Homo sapiens: one gene and its partner. The protein of the gene in region 1 purifies or fractionates together with the protein of each later gene. This does not show direct contact. Each region holds a gene or a part of one and is shown on either strand. Other genes may lie near its edges.

What was found.
Region 2: the proteins of C11orf58 (region 1) and MAP1B fractionate together in Homo sapiens (co-fractionation; one large-scale study listed by BioGRID). This does not show direct contact.

The regions. Positions count from the first base shown.
Region 1 is NC_000011.10:16,745,147-16,748,972, forward strand, and holds part of C11orf58 (small acidic protein), read left to right. Parts: intron 1-2,950; coding exon 2,951-3,011; intron 3,012-3,826.
Region 2 is NC_000005.10:72,197,749-72,201,574, forward strand, and holds part of MAP1B (microtubule-associated protein 1B), read left to right. Parts: coding exon 1-2,619; intron 2,620-3,826. UniProt on the Homo sapiens protein: Facilitates tyrosination of alpha-tubulin in neuronal microtubules. Phosphorylated MAP1B is required for proper microtubule dynamics and plays a role in the cytoskeletal changes that accompany neuronal differentiation and neurite extension.

The DNA of each region.
Region 1 (3,826 bases):
ATTTCTATAGTTTGTTACTAGATAGAGAAGTTTCTCTGAATGTGTAGAACACCAGGGGGAAAGAAAACCTTAATTTTAAAAATGTTCAAGATACTTTGAAATGCCTGTCAGTTTGGTTAACGTTAATAGAAGGTACAGTTGACCCTTGAGCAATGTGGGGGTTAGGGGTGCTGGTTCTGCAGGCAGTCAGAAGTTTGCATATAACTTTTGACTCCCCAACAACTTAACTACTAATAGCCTACTGTTGACTGGAAGTCTTACTGATAACATAATTATCAGTTAACACATATTTTGGGTGTTAAATGTATTATATCCTGTATTCTTACAATAAAGAAAAGGAAATGTTATCAAGAAAATTATAAGGAAGAGAAAATAATTGACTCTTCATTAATTGGAAGTGGATTATCATAAAGGTCTTCATCTTCATAGTTTTCATGTTGAGTGGGCTGAAAAGGAGGGATTGTCTTACTGTCTGGGAGTGGCAGAGGCAGAAGTATATTCAAGTATAAGTGGATCCACACAGTTTAATCCTGTGTTCAGGGTCAACTATATAAAACAAGTGCCAGGAAAATATCTATTGTAAAAACCTTTCTTTATCCTAGCAGTTTATACAGGGATCTCTAGATACTTAGTTTTTGTAAGCAAGTAAATTTATTTTCCTAACATTGTCCTAACAGACTTCCTACAAACTAAATTGAAAAGAAATAGGAAAGCTTTTTTTCTCTTTTTTTAAGCACATTAAAATGAAATTCTGCTCTTTGTTTTGTTATGCACATGGGAATACATTCATTCATTTTCCCAACAATTACAGACTACCTACTACTGTGCTGGATCCTGGGTGGTCATATAGATCAATAATACATGTTTGAAGCTATTATGTAATGGAGGAAACCAGATAATAGCAATACAGAATTGTAATTGCTGTGAGAAAGCCATGCACATAGTGCTGTGGAATCACAGAGGGCAGCTAACTCTGGTTTAGCAGTGCAAGAAAGCTTCCCCAAAATAGAATTGATCTGAATCTCAAAGGATGAGAAGGAGTTAGCCAGACTACAACAGTAGGTTTGGGGATAGGAAGAGGTCATGTAAAACACTGAGACCTATTTAAATAAAGCATTTGTATAATATCTCATTAATCGAGATTTCCCAATTTGTAATTTGTCATAGAAAATAGTCTGCAATTTCTCTTGTTTCATGCAAATATATTAAGTCCTCACTTAACATCCCTTGTGGTTCTTGGAAACTAACCTTTGGCAAACTGACAATAAAGTTGTTTCACTGTAACACTGATAAGGAGGAAAATTGTTTTCATTATAGGTTGTTTCAACTAAAATCAGTTAAAATCGAAGTTTCCAAGAACCTATCATTGAAAATTAAGTGAGGACTTAAAAGATTTGTTAAGGATATGTAAGGTAAGTGTTAGTTTAGGGGCCATATTCAACTTAGTAGAATGAAACTTATTCAAGTACTTAGGAAGAACATCCTAATATAAAATATATGGAAGTTGACTAACTAGTAAATAGGTTGTTCAGCATAGATTAAATTCTCTTTTTTTTGTTGTTGTTGTTTTGAGACAGTCTCACTGCAACCTCTGCCTCCCGGGTTCAAGCAGTTCTCTGCCTCAGCCTCCCAAGTAGCTGGGATTACAGGCACCTGCCACCATGACTGGCTAATTTTTGTATTTTTAGTAGAGTCAGGGCTTCACCGTTTGAACTCCTGACCTCGTGATCCACCCTCCTTTGCCTCCCAAAGTGCTGGGATTACAGGCATGAGCCACTGCGCCTGGCCCATAGATTAAATTCTTTGTGAGGCCAAGATTGTAGCTTTGATCTTCATATGGGGTGTTTAGAGGTATTCCATTTTGTGGCCACAAAGTATATTTGTAATCCTAGCCGGCTATCATGAATATTTTATTGGTCACAGGAAGAACCAGCTAAGAACATATGAATAGATCAGTGCAATACTGTCATCATCCTGGAATAACTTGATGCTGTTATATTAAAATCTTGTTAATGGCTGTCAGTTTTGCAACCTAAACTAGTAACACACTGAATTATTGATTTGCTTATGTGTTAATGGCACATAAAGCAATGAGCATTAACACTTGAAGTTTTTCGGTAGTATCATTTTTGTGTATGGAGACTGTATCTGCCATTTTTTCACAATAGGAAGGTTTGTTACTGTATCTTCACAGATGATTGGTTAAGATTGCTTTCCAAAGTCACATTTATTCTCACCTTCACATGGTGTTTTAATGAGCACTTATGAAACTAAATATGAACCATAAAGAGTGGATTGGACTGATTAAATTGAGAGTAATTATGCAGTTTAATCAGTTGGTAATATTGAATCATATGTATTTTTATGTTTAGAGTACAGGATTGTTTTAAATTGTTCTTTTTGACAAGTTGAGATTAGTAGTTTATTGTCAAATAGTAAAGAGATAGCTAATGATTGTGATATACTGTAATAAGATCTATCACTTTATATGATACATTATAAGTTTCAATTATTTCATTTTTGTCAGGCTAAATCTCATTTGCTTTCTCTCCATGAGATATACTTGAGGCAGCAGAAAGAGCAGGTGGGAAGTTAAAGCAACTCATTTAACTGGCCTTTAGGAAAGAAAATGTTTAGATTGACTCAATTTTCTAGTTATCTATTCATCTTATTTAAAATTCCAACCTGCTCTACTCCTTACTCAGGTCTGTTTTGTTTTAATCACACTTAGTACTTTCTAACATAGTATAAATAGTGATTACGTTTGCCTGTCTCCCTTCCCCATTCCTACCCTTGCTAGAATGTAAGGTCCTTAAAGGCAGAGATTCTAATTTAATCTTTTGTCTTCACTGTGTCCCAGAAGCCTAGAATAGTTTTCAGCACATAGTAGATACCCAATAAGGTTAAATTAGTGGTCTCAAATGCTAATACATTTTCAACCTTCTTATAGAAAGAACATACTGGTCGTCTTGTTATAGGAGATCACAAATCAACATCTCACTTCCGAACCGGTAAGAAAGTAAAGTGTAATTAAAATGGAAGTGCTAAATTCAGAATATGAAGTATGTGTTCATGTTTCAGGATATTCTACTTTGGCATGTAATTGTGTAAATTATTAAAATATTATAATTAGAGCTGGGTGCAGTGGCTTAATGCCTGTAATCCCGGTTATTTGGGAGGTTAAAGTGGGAGGATCACTTAAGCCCAGGAGTTTGAGGCTGCAATGAAGCTATGATTGCACCACTGCATTCCAGCCTGGGCTACAGAGCAAGACCTCATCTCTTAAATTTAAAAAAAAAAAGGAGAGAAAAAAATGCTGGGCACCTTGGCTTATGCTTGTAATCCCAGCATTTTGGGAGGCTGAGGTGGGCCGATCACTTGAGGCAAATCACCAGCCTGGTCAACATGGCAAAACCGTGTCTCTACTAAAAAAAAAAAAAAAAAAAAAATTAGCCTGGTGTGGTGGCTCACACCTGTAATCCCAGCTGCTTGGGAGGCTGAGGCACGATAATTGCCTGAACCAGAGAGGCGGAGGTTGCAGTGAGCCAAGATAGCACCATTGCACTCCAGCCTGAGTGACAGAGTGCAACTCTGTCTCCAAAAAAAAAAATTAGAAATGTATAATAGGTAAACATGTTACATATATAAAGTATCAATTATCATGTACTTTGATTTTTAAAAGATGAGAGAGTATATGTCATTATGATATTCTAACCAAGAAACTAACCTTTTTCTGTCTCCATTTTTACTGATTCAGAACATATATTTTAATTGTAGTGAGGTTTTATGCCTCAACTTGTTAACTCTGGTATGTACAGAATTTTTG
Region 2 (3,826 bases), on another chromosome or scaffold:
TTGCACCAATAAAAGAAGACTTTGGCCAAGAAAAGAAAACTGATGATGTTGAAGCCATGAGTTCTCAACCAGCACTGGCTCTGGATGAAAGGAAATTAGGAGATGTTTCTCCCACACAAATAGATGTCAGTCAGTTTGGATCTTTTAAAGAAGACACTAAGATGTCCATTTCTGAAGGTACTGTCTCAGACAAGTCAGCTACTCCTGTTGATGAGGGCGTAGCAGAAGACACGTACTCTCATATGGAGGGTGTGGCCTCAGTGTCCACAGCCTCAGTGGCTACGAGCTCATTTCCAGAGCCAACAACAGATGATGTGTCTCCATCTCTGCATGCTGAGGTTGGCTCCCCACATTCCACAGAAGTAGATGACTCCCTTTCAGTGTCTGTTGTGCAAACACCTACCACATTCCAGGAAACAGAAATGTCTCCATCTAAAGAAGAATGCCCAAGACCGATGTCAATTTCTCCACCAGATTTCTCCCCTAAAACTGCAAAGTCCAGGACACCCGTTCAAGATCACAGATCTGAACAGTCCTCAATGTCTATTGAATTTGGCCAAGAATCTCCTGAGCAATCCCTTGCTATGGACTTCAGTCGACAGTCTCCAGATCACCCTACAGTGGGTGCAGGCGTGCTTCACATCACTGAAAATGGGCCAACTGAAGTGGACTACAGTCCTTCTGACATGCAGGACTCCAGTTTATCACATAAGATACCACCTATGGAGGAGCCGTCCTACACCCAAGATAATGATCTTTCTGAGCTCATCTCAGTATCTCAGGTAGAGGCCTCCCCGTCCACCTCTTCTGCTCATACCCCTTCTCAGATCGCTTCTCCTCTCCAAGAAGATACTCTATCCGATGTTGCTCCTCCCAGAGATATGTCCTTATATGCCTCACTCACCTCTGAAAAAGTGCAAAGTCTGGAAGGAGAGAAGCTCTCTCCAAAATCTGATATCTCTCCACTCACCCCACGAGAGTCCTCTCCTTTATATTCACCTACTTTTTCAGATTCTACCTCTGCAGTCAAAGAGAAAACAGCAACTTGCCACAGTTCCTCTTCTCCACCAATAGATGCAGCATCCGCAGAGCCCTATGGCTTCCGTGCCTCAGTGTTATTCGATACAATGCAACACCATCTAGCCTTGAATAGAGATTTGTCCACACCTGGCCTGGAGAAGGACAGTGGAGGGAAGACACCTGGTGACTTTAGCTATGCCTATCAAAAGCCTGAGGAAACAACCAGGTCCCCAGATGAAGAAGATTATGACTATGAGTCTTATGAGAAGACCACCCGGACCTCAGATGTGGGTGGCTATTACTATGAGAAGATAGAGAGAACCACAAAATCTCCAAGTGACAGTGGCTACTCCTATGAGACCATTGGGAAAACTACCAAGACCCCTGAAGATGGTGACTATTCCTATGAAATTATTGAGAAGACCACACGGACCCCTGAAGAGGGTGGGTACTCATATGACATAAGTGAAAAGACCACCAGCCCCCCCGAAGTGAGTGGTTACAGCTATGAAAAGACTGAGAGGTCTAGAAGGCTTCTGGATGACATCAGCAATGGCTATGATGACTCTGAGGATGGTGGCCACACACTTGGGGACCCCAGCTACTCTTATGAAACCACTGAGAAAATTACCAGTTTCCCTGAGTCTGAAGGTTATTCCTATGAGACATCTACAAAGACAACACGAACCCCTGATACTTCCACATACTGTTACGAGACTGCAGAGAAAATCACTAGAACCCCTCAGGCATCCACATATTCCTACGAGACTTCAGACCTATGCTACACTGCAGAAAAGAAGTCCCCCTCAGAAGCCCGTCAGGATGTCGATTTATGCCTCGTGTCCTCTTGTGAATACAAGCACCCCAAGACAGAGCTTTCACCCTCTTTCATTAATCCCAATCCTCTTGAGTGGTTTGCCAGTGAAGAACCCACTGAAGAATCTGAAAAGCCCCTCACTCAATCAGGGGGAGCCCCACCGCCTCCAGGAGGAAAGCAACAGGGCCGACAGTGTGATGAAACCCCTCCCACCTCAGTCAGCGAGTCAGCCCCATCCCAGACCGACTCTGATGTTCCCCCGGAGACTGAAGAGTGCCCCTCCATCACGGCCGATGCCAATATCGACTCTGAAGACGAGTCGGAAACCATCCCCACAGACAAAACTGTCACGTACAAACACATGGACCCACCTCCAGCTCCCGTGCAAGACCGCAGCCCTTCGCCACGCCACCCTGATGTGTCCATGGTGGACCCAGAGGCCTTGGCCATTGAGCAGAACCTGGGCAAAGCTCTAAAGAAAGATCTGAAAGAGAAGACCAAAACCAAAAAGCCAGGTACAAAGACCAAGTCATCTTCACCTGTCAAAAAGAGTGATGGGAAGTCTAAGCCCTTGGCAGCTTCACCAAAACCAGCGGGCTTGAAAGAATCCTCGGATAAAGTGTCCAGGGTGGCTTCTCCTAAGAAGAAAGAATCTGTGGAAAAGGCAGCAAAACCCACCACCACTCCTGAGGTCAAAGCTGCACGTGGGGAAGAGAAAGACAAGGAGACCAAGAATGCTGCCAATGCCTCTGCATCCAAGTCGGCCAAGACCGCCACTGCAGGTAGGTTGAGAAGGCTGGGCATTGGATATATGTCACAACCATTCTACTTGCGTTTACAGCCTTTATATTTCCCTGTTTGGCTTTGTACTGGGAAGATGAGGGAGCACAATTGATGCTTTACCTTCCCTGTACTCTTCTCCTCTGCCCAAAGGTATATATCTCAGTCCAGTGTGGCCTTAAGGCTTGGAAATAGCTCAGTGTATGGTTCAAAGCAGCTGTGATTCATCACTGGGATTCCTGATTTTGTGCCGTTTTCGAACACAGCAACTACAGCCCTGTTCTAAATCTTCAGAACCAAGGATGTGTCTTTCAGGTGCTTCTGGAAGACTGGTTTCAGCCATACTGGCCTCAGAATCCAGCAGGGTAACACAGGCCAGGAGCTCCCAAAGGCCTAAGGAGAACCAGAGGTTTCACATCAAGACTGGATCAACCAGTCTAGACCCAAGATTTAGAGTCCTTTTTTAAAAAAAATTTTTTTTAAATTAAAAATGTTTACATTTTTATTTAAAACATCACCAGGTTGGAGATAAATCCTCATTAAAGGCAGTGTTCCATTTTCTTATCAGCCAAAAAATACTATAATTTCAGTTGACCAGTGAGTGTCCGGTGAAAATTGAGAGAAAAACATTGATGGCTCTGCTCTTACCCTTCTCTTACCCCATGGCCTCATTAGTAGAGACTCAATGCTATTTCAGATTAAAATTCCACTGGGAAGCTAGATGCATGGCCTCATGCCTGTAATTTCAGCACTTTGGGAGGCTGAGATGGAAGGTTAGCTTCAGCCCAGGAAGTTGAGACCAGCCTGTGCAACATAGCAAGACCCTGTCTCCACAAAAAAAAAAAAATGTTTTTTAATTAGCTGGGTGTGGTGGCACGTGCTTATAGTCTTAGCTACTTGGGAGGCTGAGGCAGGAGGATCACTTCAGCCCAAGAGATCAAGGCTGCAGTGAGCCAGAATTGTATGTATCACTGCATGCCAAGCCTGGGTGACAGAGCAAGACCCTGTCTCTCAAAAATAAATAAATAAGCAAATGAAATGCCACTTGGCAAGAGCAGGTATCCCTGATTTTTGATCATTCATGTTTTTGGTCATGATTCTCAGATTTATCAGGTTCTCAGCAATGACCTGGGCTTTTGATGGAACTGGTCTATGGCAGTACTGCTTCATTTTGTTGCTTCACATCAATCACAAGGATTGGCATTCATA